Homo sapiens: one gene and its partners. The protein of the gene in region 4 purifies or fractionates together with the protein of the main gene of each other region. This does not show direct contact. Each region holds a gene or a part of one and is shown on either strand. Other genes may lie near its edges.

What was found.
Region 1: the proteins of SLC35B1 (region 4) and STRN3 purify together in Homo sapiens (affinity purification with mass spectrometry; one large-scale study listed by BioGRID and IntAct). This does not show direct contact.
Region 2: the proteins of SLC35B1 (region 4) and RMND1 purify together in Homo sapiens (affinity purification with mass spectrometry; one large-scale study listed by BioGRID and IntAct). This does not show direct contact.
Region 3: the proteins of SLC35B1 (region 4) and FAM20B purify together in Homo sapiens (affinity purification with mass spectrometry; one large-scale study listed by BioGRID and IntAct). This does not show direct contact.

The regions. Positions count from the first base shown.
Region 1 is NC_000014.9:30,911,378-30,914,912, forward strand, and holds part of STRN3 (striatin-3), read right to left. Parts: intron 2,281-3,535; coding exon 2,147-2,280; intron 806-2,146; coding exon 630-805; intron 448-629; coding exon 400-447; intron 1-399. UniProt on the Homo sapiens protein: Calmodulin-binding scaffolding protein which is the center of the striatin-interacting phosphatase and kinase (STRIPAK) complexes.
Region 2 is NC_000006.12:151,421,125-151,424,659, forward strand, and holds part of RMND1 (required for meiotic nuclear division protein 1 homolog), read right to left. Parts: intron 2,508-3,535; coding exon 2,401-2,507; intron 1,482-2,400; coding exon 1,417-1,481; intron 198-1,416; coding exon 121-197; intron 1-120. UniProt on the Homo sapiens protein: Required for mitochondrial translation, possibly by coordinating the assembly or maintenance of the mitochondrial ribosome.
Region 3 is NC_000001.11:179,042,861-179,046,395, forward strand, and holds part of FAM20B (glycosaminoglycan xylosylkinase), read left to right. Parts: intron 1-854; 5' UTR 855-987; coding exon 988-1,364; intron 1,365-1,912; coding exon of another isoform or gene 1,913-1,981; intron 1,982-3,535. UniProt on the Homo sapiens protein: Responsible for the 2-O-phosphorylation of xylose in the glycosaminoglycan-protein linkage region of proteoglycans thereby regulating the amount of mature GAG chains.
Region 4 is NC_000017.11:49,700,443-49,702,703, reverse strand, and holds the end of SLC35B1 (solute carrier family 35 member B1), read left to right. Parts: intron 1-1,193; coding exon 1,194-1,246; 3' UTR 1,247-1,761; downstream 1,762-2,261.

The sequences.
Region 1 (3,535 bases), on a different chromosome or scaffold from region 4:
TAAAACCTCCACCTCCCAGGTTCGAGCGATTCTCCTGCCTCAGCCTACTGAGTTGCTGAGACTACAAGCGCACGCCAACATGCCCAGCTAATTTTTGTATTTTGTGGTAGAGACGGAGTTTCACCATGTTGGCCAGGCTGGTCTCGAACTCCTGACCTCAAGTGATCTGCCCGCCTCAGCCTCCGAAAATCCTCAGATTACAGGCATGAACTACTGCATCTGGCCTGAATGGTACTATTATATTCATAGTCTCACCAATACAATTATTAAATAGCTATTATTCAAGTAATACATCTTTTCTAATACAAAACATTGAGAAAATTACAAGGTTTGAGGACCGATAAATAATATTTAACAATAATGATGATGTTAATTAAATACCAATTCAGTAAAACTTACATGTGGGCCCTAAATGTGTAGATAGGCTCTACATCTAAAGAGGCACTCCTAAAAGAGGGGGAAAAAGGGTAGGGGAAGAGAAGGCAATTAAATAACTATGAATCACTGGTTGATATTAAATAGTCATTAGATCAAATGTGTGCATTAAAGACATGCAACAATAATGAGGAATAATTACTTATATTAGCAAAATTGGAAGAAATACACCAGGCTAACACTAAAATACTTGCTTTTTGGCAGGAACTGTTTTTTGCAGGTTCCAAAGTTTCAGGGTATGGTCCTCAGAAGCAGTAACCAGCACAGGTTCTACAGGATGAAAAGCTAATGCCCGTACTCCATCAAAATGGCTACGTAGTGTATACTTGGGATTCCATGTCTTTCGAAAGGCATCTTTATTAGCAGGCAACTAAAAGGAAAGAGCACAATATTTAGTGGTAAAAGTAGTAAACTGGAAGGCATGTGGAGTGTTTGTTCGTTTCTTTTTGGTGTGTTTAACACATATATTTAAAACTGTTGGCTAAAATGTCCAGTGGAAATTTAATGTACCTTTAAAACTTTCTAAAAAAACTTTATCATTTAATAATAACTCAGAATAATTTCATTCGCCTTACAAATAGCCTAGGTCAAATGAAGAGTTCCTTAATCTGTTTTTACCTATTAAGCTAAACCCAAAGCTCCCATTAAATGTCAGATGAGAACAAAATAACTACCATTGCTGCAATACTTTACATGAAAAATAATTACATAAGTTATTACAAATATCCAACGGTACAGTATTAACAGTAAAGTTGTCATTTAGAAAACGTATTAGCATGTGAAATTATTAAAGGCAGCAAGTTAAGGTACTTTCTGAAAGTCTGAACTAAAGACCCTTTAAGAATATTTTTATCCCATTTTCATAATTCTTGATATTGACAGAGGTTTATCTTTTTACCTTCACATTTCTCCATCTGTAAAGATAGGCTGTGAAACCACTTCTAAAGCAGTCAAAAGTTTACTGGAATTTAGTCACTTATATACTTAAAAAAATATATTAATGAGAATAATCCAGCCCACCAAAGGCTGTCTCTAAGCATGCTAATGTTAAGTATAAAACGTGGAAAAAAGAAACTCATTATAAAAAGAAAAAAAAATTGCTGAAAAACTGCAATTAACATAAAGATCTAACAAGTATAGTTAACTCTCAATTGAAATATTAATGACTAGAAAAAATTAAATCCAAGACAAGTTTCACCTCTAACACTGGACTCCCCACTCCCCAACCCTTCCATCCACTCCCCAATCCTCTAATGAAGGAGTTAAGTATTCAGGAAATGATGCAAGCTAACTTTAAAATGTTCAGAAACTTTAAAATATTTCCTTAAGAAAATAAAAGTTCAAAAATAAAACATGCTTTTTAAGAAGTACTCTGAAGGCAAATATATGATTCAGGTTATTTTTTTTCTTGTTAACACCAAAATATGGCTTAATTTGAGATAATTGAGAGTTGACTACTCAAGATGTATTTACTGACCAATATATTAATCATCTCAAACTTCTAGTTAATCCACCAAAATACCTAAAAAAAAAATTTAAATACCACAAAGAGAGTAGTTATAAAAGAAAAACATGTCACTTCAAATCAACACATTGACACAAACTTATCTTTTCCATGCACCTTGATATTAATTCTGTTTTATAAGTGATTCCAAAAAATAAGGAGCCTTCTATTAAATCATTAAAAAATTAAAAATAAAACTGCACTTACATCATAACTATAGTCTGCATCATTTGTTACCGTCAAGTCTGCAAGGTCTCCAAGGCCCAGTACACTTAACAAAACATCATCAGAACCCATAATAAATGACTTGCCTCCTCCAGATGGAAACGTTATTGGTTCAGCTATAAAGAACAAAACCGCTTCTTAAATGCTGAAAAATCATACAGTACAAGACAATATTGTGGGGAAAATTTAAGCACTTAACAGTTACAATATTCAGTAATATAATTAATTTTTATTTTCCCACTTCTACTCAAAAAATCCTGTTACTAAGCAGTGTTAAACAAATGTGTTGGAACTGTGGTGTATTAACTGTCCACAAATAAAATGTGCACTAGATATATTATTCTGGGGTGGAAGCTAGGGCACAAAAGCTTTGTCTGTCTAAATCTCTTATCACTTCAGTACAATTATAACTATAGTTTACATGTTAAATAAGAAATAGGACAAATTTTGATTAAATAATGGAGTTAAATATCAGATTTTTGCATTCATGAGGGGAAACCTCTACCATGGACCTCAAGGACCTCAAAGTAGTCATATAGTATTTTTTAAATGTTAATAGGTTGTCACCAAGTCCTTTTGCTTTCTAAAGAAGTACTAGGCATCCTAGTCCCTGATAAAAACTAGTACAAACATTGAAATGTAAATGGTTTACAGTCAGCTATATACTATATCAGTTCACTAGAATGAAGCTTTAATTGTTCAGATTCCTTTAGTAACAGCAATGGTCTAGGAAAAAATTCTTCCACCAACAATGTCAGTTTCCTTTCTATAAAAGGTTAATCCACGTGGTCTTCAGAATGTCTTCCAGCTTTATTTATTTATTTATTTAGAGACACAGTCTTGCTCTGTCGCCCAGGCTGGAGTGCAGTGGTGCGATCTCGGTTCACTGCAACCTCCACCTCCTAGGTTCAAGCAATTCTCCTGTCTCGGTCTCCCAAGTAGCTGGGATTACAGGCGCCCGCCACCACGCCCGGCTAATTTTTCTGTTTTTAGTAGAGATGGGCTTTCACCATGTTGGCCAGGCTGGTCTTGACTCCTGACCTCAAGTGATCCACCTGCCTCGGCCTCCCAAAGTGCTGGGATTACAGGCGTGAGCCACCGCGCCCAGCCTGTCTTCCAGCTTTAAAGCTTTGACTATGACTTTTATTTTAATGTCCCATTCTAGTTACCATGACACTCTAAAATGAAGCAAGTAATCTTGACCACAGAGCTTTAATTTCTGATCAGATTTGCCATTTCAATTTCAAACTAAACTCAGGTTGAGCTTCACTTAGTTTTCTCAACTATATCATGTGCATTATTACAGCTTTTCATGTTAATATTAACAGTTCCAATTATTTAAAATGCGTTTTCCTTTCTATACATACTACT
Region 2 (3,535 bases), on a different chromosome or scaffold from region 4:
TGAAAACAGCTACAGTTCCCATAAACGTGTAAATGTTTGCTCTTCACCACAGAACTATGGGAATGTTTTCTTGAGATTGTTAAATATATGAAATATTTTATTTAGAGAGAAAACTTTTACCTTAGAGCAAAGAGTTCACCGATTTTCTGCATAACTTCTTCATGAGATAGTTTCACTTTCTTCCCAGCTTTTAAAGCCTAGTTGAGAGGGAATCGGAAAAACCAAAAAACCATGTATCTCTCTTTCTAATAAGCATTAGGTCAACAGGGCAAAATCTGAAGTGGCATAATTTGGATCCTATGTAAATATTTTTTAGGATGGCTGTCTCCCAGATTAATGTCTTAACTCACCTTGAAATTTCATAATTTTATTAGGTAGAAATTGTATATTCTCTTTTTTCATTTCCCTTCTCATCAGCATTTTCAATGATATATACATTCCTAATCTCTTAGTAGAAAAGCAGGGCCTCCTTTCCGAAGTATAATTAGATTACTCTTTCACAATAAAGACACAGTTAATTACAATATGATGATTTTTAATGTATACTGAAATTTCAATATAACTTTATATGTATTTTTCATACCACTATTTTTCTCATAATTTAGCAAAACACTTTCTTAAATCAGGAAAAGTGGTCATAATTTCCATTCTCAGAGAGAAACATTTCACTTTTTTCTTTAATTCAGTTACATTAAAAATACTGCAACTGACGGGCATGGTGGCTCGTGGCCTGTAATGCTAGAACTTTGGGAGGCCGAGGCAGGAGGATCGCTTGAGCCCAGGAGTTCAAGACCAGCCTGGGCAACATGGCCAGACCCCATTTCAATTATATTAATATTAAAAAAAAAATACTGCACCAACAGAGGAAACAATTTGAAGTTTTAAAAAGTAAAAAGTAATCAATATGAAGTTTCTTAATTTGTCATTTTATATGTAACTGGGAGTTCTTAAGTTTACTGTAGTTTTCTTATTGTTTGTAATAATGTTGTTGTACTCCTAAACAATCGGCCCTCTATAAGTTCTGCAACTGCAGATTCAACCAACTGCAAATTGACAGTATTTTGAGAAAAAAGAATGGTTGCATCTGTACCGAACATGTACAAACTGTTTTTTCTTGTTATTATTTCCTAAATAATACAGTATAACAACTATTTACATAGTATTTACATTATATTAGGTATTTTAGGTAATCTAGAGATGGTTGAAAGTATACATGAGGATATGCATAGGTTATATGCAAATATATACCATTTTATATCAGGGATTTGGACACTGGTAGATTCTGGTATCCAGTGGGGTCTTGGAACAAATCTCCCATGGATACTGATGGATAGCTATATATTGTTATATTGGGAAATTCATATTTTTTACATATAAAAATCAATCCTTGAATAAGCATAAAATTGATATAATTACCTCAGGAATTGACTGAATAGATTCAATAAATTTATCCAGTGATGCTTCCCAAATTGCCAGTTTTACTGGGAAAAAAATTAATAATGGAACATTTCTTTATCATCATATTCACATGTATATAAAATACATAATTGCACAGCATCTTCACTACTATTTCAGTAATAGTTTAAGAAAAAGTACTAAAACCTTGAAAATATAATTTAAGAATAGTTAATTATCATAAAGGACAGAATTAAAGTGGATAGAGGAAACTGAATCGCTTTCCATGCCCTATTGGAAGACCAAAGCTACATTTAGTAGAACTCTTGATTTTCTAGTATTACATCTTGGAAACTGAGGAGGGTAGGGTACACCTTGATACCATGGGTAGCTCTGCAGATAGGGCGCGACTAAGACTTTCCTGGCCTCCCCTTCACTCCTCAGGACTAAGAGTAAACCTCAGAAATCTCCGAAGCCCCTCAGAGTGGGATGGACAGGACGCTGCAGCAGCCACCTAAGGTAGACTGCTGGCAAAAGAAATTCTTAAAGAACTTGTATAGTTTTATTCGGGATGTGGATCTTTCAGAACAAACTTATAGCCACTGTGACTCTGGGTCCCATTCCTATGGAACACTAGAGTATGTTTTTCTACACTGGGACCTGTGCCCAGTCACACAAGGCTGGGCTTCTCTGTCTGGATTAGAGACTATCTAAGAATAACAATCGCATAGAGAGAAGAGAAAAAAACAAAGGCTAATATAATCATCATCTAAAAAATACTTTTGGAGAGGTTAAGCTTTATTAATACAATTAATAAGGAATGAGTAACTTCAGCACAGTACTATCTTTTATACTAGATATTTTTTCTGATGGAGGGAAAAAAAGGAAAAGGAATGCTAAGGCTTTGTTGAGTATTCTGAAAATATACCAAAATCGTGACTATTTAAACTTCCCTCAGTGAAATGACAACTGTAGTACCCTATCCCATAAGCAGTAGTAACTTACCAGAAAGGCATAGAGCATTGGAGAAAGCAAACTTCTCTAGAATGGCATCATCTAAATCCAGCTCTGAATTTAACTTGATTTCCCCCCTGTGAAGTTTTGACTGTCCCCTGTGAAAAGCAAAAAGATAATACCTTCTAAATCTTAAAAAGCACTTTAACTTTTCCTTTGAAAAAGACACCATATCATCTTTCTGGAGGTCATTTTGACAATTTGTATCAAGAGTGTTACAAATGTTCTCATATCCTTTGGTCCAGGTAATTCCCTTTCTAGGAGTTTATCCTAAGGAAATAATCTAAGATGCAAAGAAAAATTTGTATACAAGAAAACTTTTTTTTTTTTTTTTGAGACAGTCTCACTCTGCCGCCCAGGCTAGAGTGCAGTGGTGCGATCTCAGCTCACTGCAACCTCAGTCTCCTAGGTTCAAGCGATTCTCCTGCCTCAGCCTCCCTAGTAGCTGGGATTACAGGCATGCGTAACCACACCCAGCTAATTTTTTTTGTATTTTTAATAGAGATAGAGTTTCACCATGTTGGCCAGGCTGGTCTTGAATTCCTGACCTCAAATGATCCACCCACCTCGGCCTCCCAAAGTGGTGCGACTACAGGTGCGAGCCACCTTGCCCAGCTGAAAACTTTTAAAAAAATGGTCAGTGTTGGCTGGGCACGGTGGCTCACGCCTGTAACCCCAGCACTCCGGGAGGCCGAGGCAGGTGGATCACGAGGTCAGGAGATTGAGACCATCCTGGCTAACATGGTGAAACCCCGTCTCTACTCAAAACACAAAATAAAATTAGCCGGGTGTGGTGGCGGGCGCCTGTAGTCCCAGCTACTCGGGAGGCTGAGGCAGGAGAATGGAGTGAACCCGGGAGGCGGAGCTTGCAGTAAGCCGAAATCACGCCACTGCACTCCAGCCTGGGAGACTGAGCAAGACTCTGTCTCCAAAAAAAAAAAAAAGGTCAGTGTTTAAGAGTAAAAAATTAGGAAATAAACCAAATGTTCAGTAGGGGTTGGCTCAGTAATAGTCACTCCACACAAGAAAAACTTAAAAGTGTGTTTTGGAAGGATAGTTAATAAAAAGGAGAACGTTCACAGTAAATTTCTATGTGAAAAAATGCTGCATATAAAACTATATATGG
Region 3 (3,535 bases), on a different chromosome or scaffold from region 4:
TTTTTATGAGCTCAGAAGAGAGGAAGTGTGTGCTGATTGGCCCATGGGTGGCCATGGGTGGGCCCAGAAAAAGCACCATAAGTTCTCACTGTGGTTTGCGGACTCTTAACCAGAACCGACAGCCCAGCCCCCATGCTTCAGGCCATCCCTGGCTTGAAGGTGGGGCTTCACTGGGGACCCATCCCTTTCCGCCCAGGAGCCTGCCTCCTGCCACCATTCATGTCATCCACAGTGCCCAAGCTGTTTGTACCAAGGGATGCCTGCAGGCCTACACTGAGCCATCCTCAGTCCTCCCTTGGCCTCCCTCCCATGCTCATTGGTGCCCAAAGTCCGGAGTGGGCTGAGACAGCAGGGGCCTGGTGTATCAGCACTGCCCCAACCACATATATACAGGTCACGACATCACCTGGGCTTTGCCACAATTTTGCTCCACCCCAGAGTGGGTGCGGGGAGTGGGGAGAGGCCAGGCAGCAGGAGTGGCATTTTGGAGCCTGTGGGTGTAGCTGTGGCTGGGTGGCTGCAGCTGTACCCAGGAACACGGGGCCCCTGCTCCACCATCTTGGAAGAGGGCAGGGCTCCCACCTGTTCCCAGCTCCTTCCAGCTCCGTGGAGTGTGCAGCCCTGGCCATGCCTCTCCCACTGCAGCTGGTGTCTTCGCAGCAGCTGCTCCAGTTGGGCCACTGCTGCCATCATTAGGTCCTTCTCCAGATTAGTTAATTTTAAATTATTGAACCTTCTTGAGCTCAAGAATAGAAAGCCTAAAAGGGTGAGTCATATATTAGAGGCTTACAAAAGATTCAGGGGTGGAAGGACAGAATTTTTGATCAAATTTTGCTTTGTACTTGGGCTTGCAGGAACTGTGGAAGGTGCATCAGTGAAGAAATGGACCAATGTGTATAATCATGGAATCTCCTTGCTAACCATCACCACCAGCTCTCCTTAATACATGAGCAAGAGTGGGTCAGGGGAGAAGGAAAAGAGGTCAACATGAAGCTAAAGCAGCGAGTCGTGCTGTTAGCAATTCTCCTTGTCATTTTTATCTTCACCAAAGTTTTCCTGATTGACAACTTAGATACATCAGCTGCCAACCGGGAGGACCAGAGGGCCTTTCACCGAATGATGACTGGCTTGCGGGTGGAGCTGGCACCCAAGCTGGACCATACCTTGCAGTCTCCCTGGGAGATTGCAGCCCAGTGGGTGGTTCCCCGGGAAGTGTACCCTGAAGAGACACCAGAGCTGGGGGCAGTCATGCATGCCATGGCCACCAAGAAAATCATTAAAGCTGATGTGGGTTATAAAGGGACACAGCTGAAAGCCTTACTGATACTTGAAGGAGGCCAGAAAGTTGTTTTCAAACCTAAGCGGTAAGTTTTGATCTTGGAAGCTGCATGTGCTAGTTGGTTGATTCATTTAACTTGGGATTTATATAAGATTTATTTTGTCATCTTCTCTTGGAAGTCTCTTCAGTAAAATAAGAGGGGTAGACTAGATCTCTAAAGTCTTTTCTAGCACTTAACATGAATCTACCTTTATAGTATCATATAGAATAGTCTTCCTGCCCTAAAAATCCTCTGTGTTCTACCTACTCATTTTTCCCTCTCTGCCCCAGAACACCTGGTAACCCACTGGTCTTTTTACTATCTCCGTAGTTTTGCCTTTTCCTGAATGTAATATAGTTGCAATCACAGAATGTAAGCCCTTTCAGATTGGCTTCTTTCACTTAGTAAAGTGCATTTAAGGTTTATACATATCTTTTTGTGGCATGATAGTTCATTTGTTTTTATCACTGAATAATATTCCATTGTCTAGATGTACCACAGCTTAATTATCCATTCACTTACTGAAGGACATCTTGGTTGCTTCCAAGTTTGGGGCAATTGTGAATAAAGCTGCTATAAACATCCATGTGCAGGTTTTTGTGTGGACATAAATTTTCAACTCATTTGGATAGATACCAGAAGCATAATTGCTGGACCACATGGTAAGAGTACGTTTCATTTTGTAAAAAACTGCTAAACTATCTTCCAAAGTAGCTGTACCATTTTGTGTTTCTACCAGCAATGCATGAGAATTCCTGTTGCTCCACATCCTCACCAGGGTTTGGCATCAGTGTTTCAGATCATAGCTGTTCTAATAGATCTCTTATTTCTTTCACCTGTTTTAAGTAAAGAATTGGGCCATTTTAGTTACCTTAGTTAACTAAATATGTATGTTGTTCATGATCCCTTTGGACTTCCTAGGGATCTACAGAGATAATTTGTGTGACAATTCTGTGATACAGTTAATTATTTTTATTTATTTATTTATTTCTCTACACAAGACAGCTTGGAGGGTATAGTTAATTTTCTAAAAATGTTTTCTGAGTGTATGAATCTGAATTAGGTTAACATCATGATGGTGATTTGTATTCTTTTGCCGGGAGTTAGTTACCAATGAATATTCTCAAAGTTTGTAATGTCTGAAATCTTTTGGGTACTAAACATTTTTTTCATTCCTCAGTAGAGCTTTTGAAAAAATTATAACATGACTTTAGATTTCTTTCTGGAGTGGGAGAAGAAATGTAGGGAAAAGATGGACAAAATTCAACTCCCTTTCTTACCCAACTATTAGTAAATGAAAGGCAGTCAGAGCATGAATGTATAGGGAGCCCAGAAATGGAAGGGATCACTGTTGGTCTGGAACTGGGAAATATATGTCAGTGATGTGGAAATTAGGAAAGTTAAAACATTTGGTAGACTTTCAGAGAATAAAAATTTGACTGGGGCTGGGCGTGATGGCTCATGCCTGTAATCCCAGCACTTGGGGAGGCCGAGGTGGGTGGATCACTTGAGCCTGGGTGATGTAGTGAGACTCTGTCTCTATAAAAAAATAAAAAATTAGCTGGGCGTGGTGGTGTGCACCTATAGTCTCAGCTACTTGGAAGGCTGAGGTGGGAGGATGGGAAGATTGCTTGAGTGCGAGAGTTTGAGGCCGCAGCAAGCCATGCTCGTGCCACTGCCCTCCAGCCTGGGTGACAGAGTGAGACCTGTCTCAAAAAAAAAAACCAAAAAACAAAAAAAAACCGTGGTTATGTGGGCCTGGGATCTAATTTCTGTAATGCACACTATTTGCCAGGGATTACACTAAGTACTTTTGTATCTCTTAATCCTTTAAACCCTTATACGAAGGTTTAACCTTTTTGGACAATTTCAGTTCTTATTTCCTGAATAAGAAACTGAGGTTCAGAGAGTGTAACTAACTTGACAAGGTCACCTCACATCAATCAGTGGTACAGAAGTTTGAACCCATATTTGTTAGAGTTGTAAACAGCTTGTATTCTGCCACACACATGGAATTCTCTAAGTTTGTTTGCTTCCCATAAGTGATGACGTGGAGCACTCATCATCAAAAATCGCATTTAGCTTTGAAGTTTGGTCTTTGACTTCTTGGCCTGAGAGATAAGCAGCATAAACAGAGTAATGGAAAAAGGCAAACTAAAGACAAAAATAAAATTTGTATATAAAGAGATGGCCGGGCACGGTGGCTCACGCCTGTA
Region 4 (2,261 bases):
GTGGTACGATCTCAGCTCACCAATCGGGTGAGCCTCCTCCTCCTCCTGGGTTCAAGCAATTCTCCTGCCTCAGCATCCGGAGTAGCTAGGATTACAGGCATGCACCACCATGCCCGGATGATTTTGTATTTTTAGTAGAGATGGGGTTTCTCCGTGTTGGTCAGGCTGGTCTCGAACTCCCAACCTCAGGTGATTCCCCCCGCCTCAGCCTCCCAGAGTGCTGGGATTACAGGCATGAGCCACCGCGCTCAGCCCAGAGAAAACTTTTTTAAAAGAGAAAAGAGGCTGAGTGTGGTGGCTCACGCCTGTAATTCTAACACTTTGGGAGGCTGAGGCAGGAGTATCGCTTGAGTTTAGGAGTTCGAGACCAGCCTGGGCAACATGATGAGACCCTTGTCTCTGCAAAAAAATACAAAAATTAGCTGAGCATGGTGGCAGACGCCTGTGGTCCCAGCTACTCGGGGCTGAGGTGGGAGGATCGTTTGAGCCCAGGAGGTGGAGGCTGAGGTGAGCTGTGATCACACCACTGCACTCCCACCTGGGTGACAGAGTGAAAATCTGTATCCAAAGAAAATAAAAGGAGAAAAGGAAGCTTTATTTCTAATCCAGCCTTCCTAGGGTCTCCCTCTGTTGCTCAGGCTGGAGTGTAGTGGCATGATCATAGTCCACTGCAACCTTGATCTCCTGGACTCAAGTGATCCACCCACCACAGCCTCCCGAGTAGTTGCGATTATAGGCATGTACCACAATACCTGACCAATTTTTTTTTTTTTTTTTGTAGCGATGGGGTCTTGCTGTGTTGCCTAGGCTGGCCTTAAACTCCTGGGCTCAAATGATCCTCCTGCCTCAGTCTCCCAAAATGCTGGGATTGCAGGTGTGAGTCACCACATTCAGCCATAGCCTAGAAGTTTTGACTCTTAAATTTCTTTTAGTCTTGCTGTATTATATATGTATCTATATCTATCTGTATCTCTATATAGATATATTTATATAGATACAGATATCTGTAATAACTAGTATCCTGGTGCCATTCTCTTGTCTCTGAGGAAGTTACATAAAACCAGTGTTCTGACATGTATTTTATTTAAAGCCCCCATTTTGGAGATACAAGGCCGACTACCCCACCCCACCACAATCATTGGTAAGTTTCATTTCCCCCCATAAGGCTAAGCCCATTTTCTTCCTTTTCATAGGTCTTGGTCTTGATGCCAAGTTTGGGAAAGGAGCTAAGAAGACATCCCACTAGGAAGAGAGAGACTACCTCCACATCAAGAATATTTAAGTTATTATCTCAAACAGTGACATCTCTTGGGAAAATGGACTTAATAGGAATATGGGACTGAGTTCCAGTCTTTTTTAATAAAATAAAATCAAGCAAAATCACATATTCTAAAAAATGCACTTGGATTTTAACAAGACAGAGTGGTGGTTTTTGTTCTTCATGCCCTGGAGCAGTCTATGGTAAATAAAAGAGGGAGGGAAGAGGCAGAGCTGGATGTTCATTACCCAGGCTGCTCCTCTCACGGGTGTGGTTAGCATGGTTGAGTGGGCGATTCCTCCAAGAACCTGAGGATTATAGGGAGGAACTCTGTGAGATCGCAGAATTGTGCTAATGGCTTCTGTTCCGATGGGTGAGGCTTGTCCCGTTAGAGCTGGTCCCATTAGAGGACGGGTGGCTGTCCATTAGAGCCAGAGAATGTAAAAGTCACTTCCTCTCCTAAAGCTCCTGTGGGCAAATATTTCATTAAAAAAACAAAGTTGTGTTCTGTCTTTTTCTTAGGCCTGGTGCAGTGGCTCACACCTGTAATCCCAGCACTCTGGGAGGCTAAGGCAGCAGGATCACTTGAGTTCAGGAGTTTGAGACCAGCCTAGACAACATAGTTAGACCTTGTCTCCACTAAAAATCAAAAACAGAAAAGAAATATTCATTGAGGCTGGGGTAAAACGAACCCAGAGTTTCAGAATCTACTGTTTTGCCATTTCCCCACTGCCTCCCCTTCAGCCACAGCTCTATCAAGACCAGAGTGGAGACCCAGTGCATACATCATGATCAGCTTTGGAAGGTCTGTGATGTACTTTTCCTGATATTCCCCCTCCATCTGTCTGTCTGTTCTCAGTCTACCTGGTCCCCTCCAGGGAGGCTGGGTTAATCCCTCCTATTCCCCTGCCTCCTCCAGCTGCTGAAGCATTGCAGTCCTCTGCCATCCTTTGCTGTGCCAAGGTGTCACCATGCCAGCTTCTGCCTGTTGAAAGGGATGCTG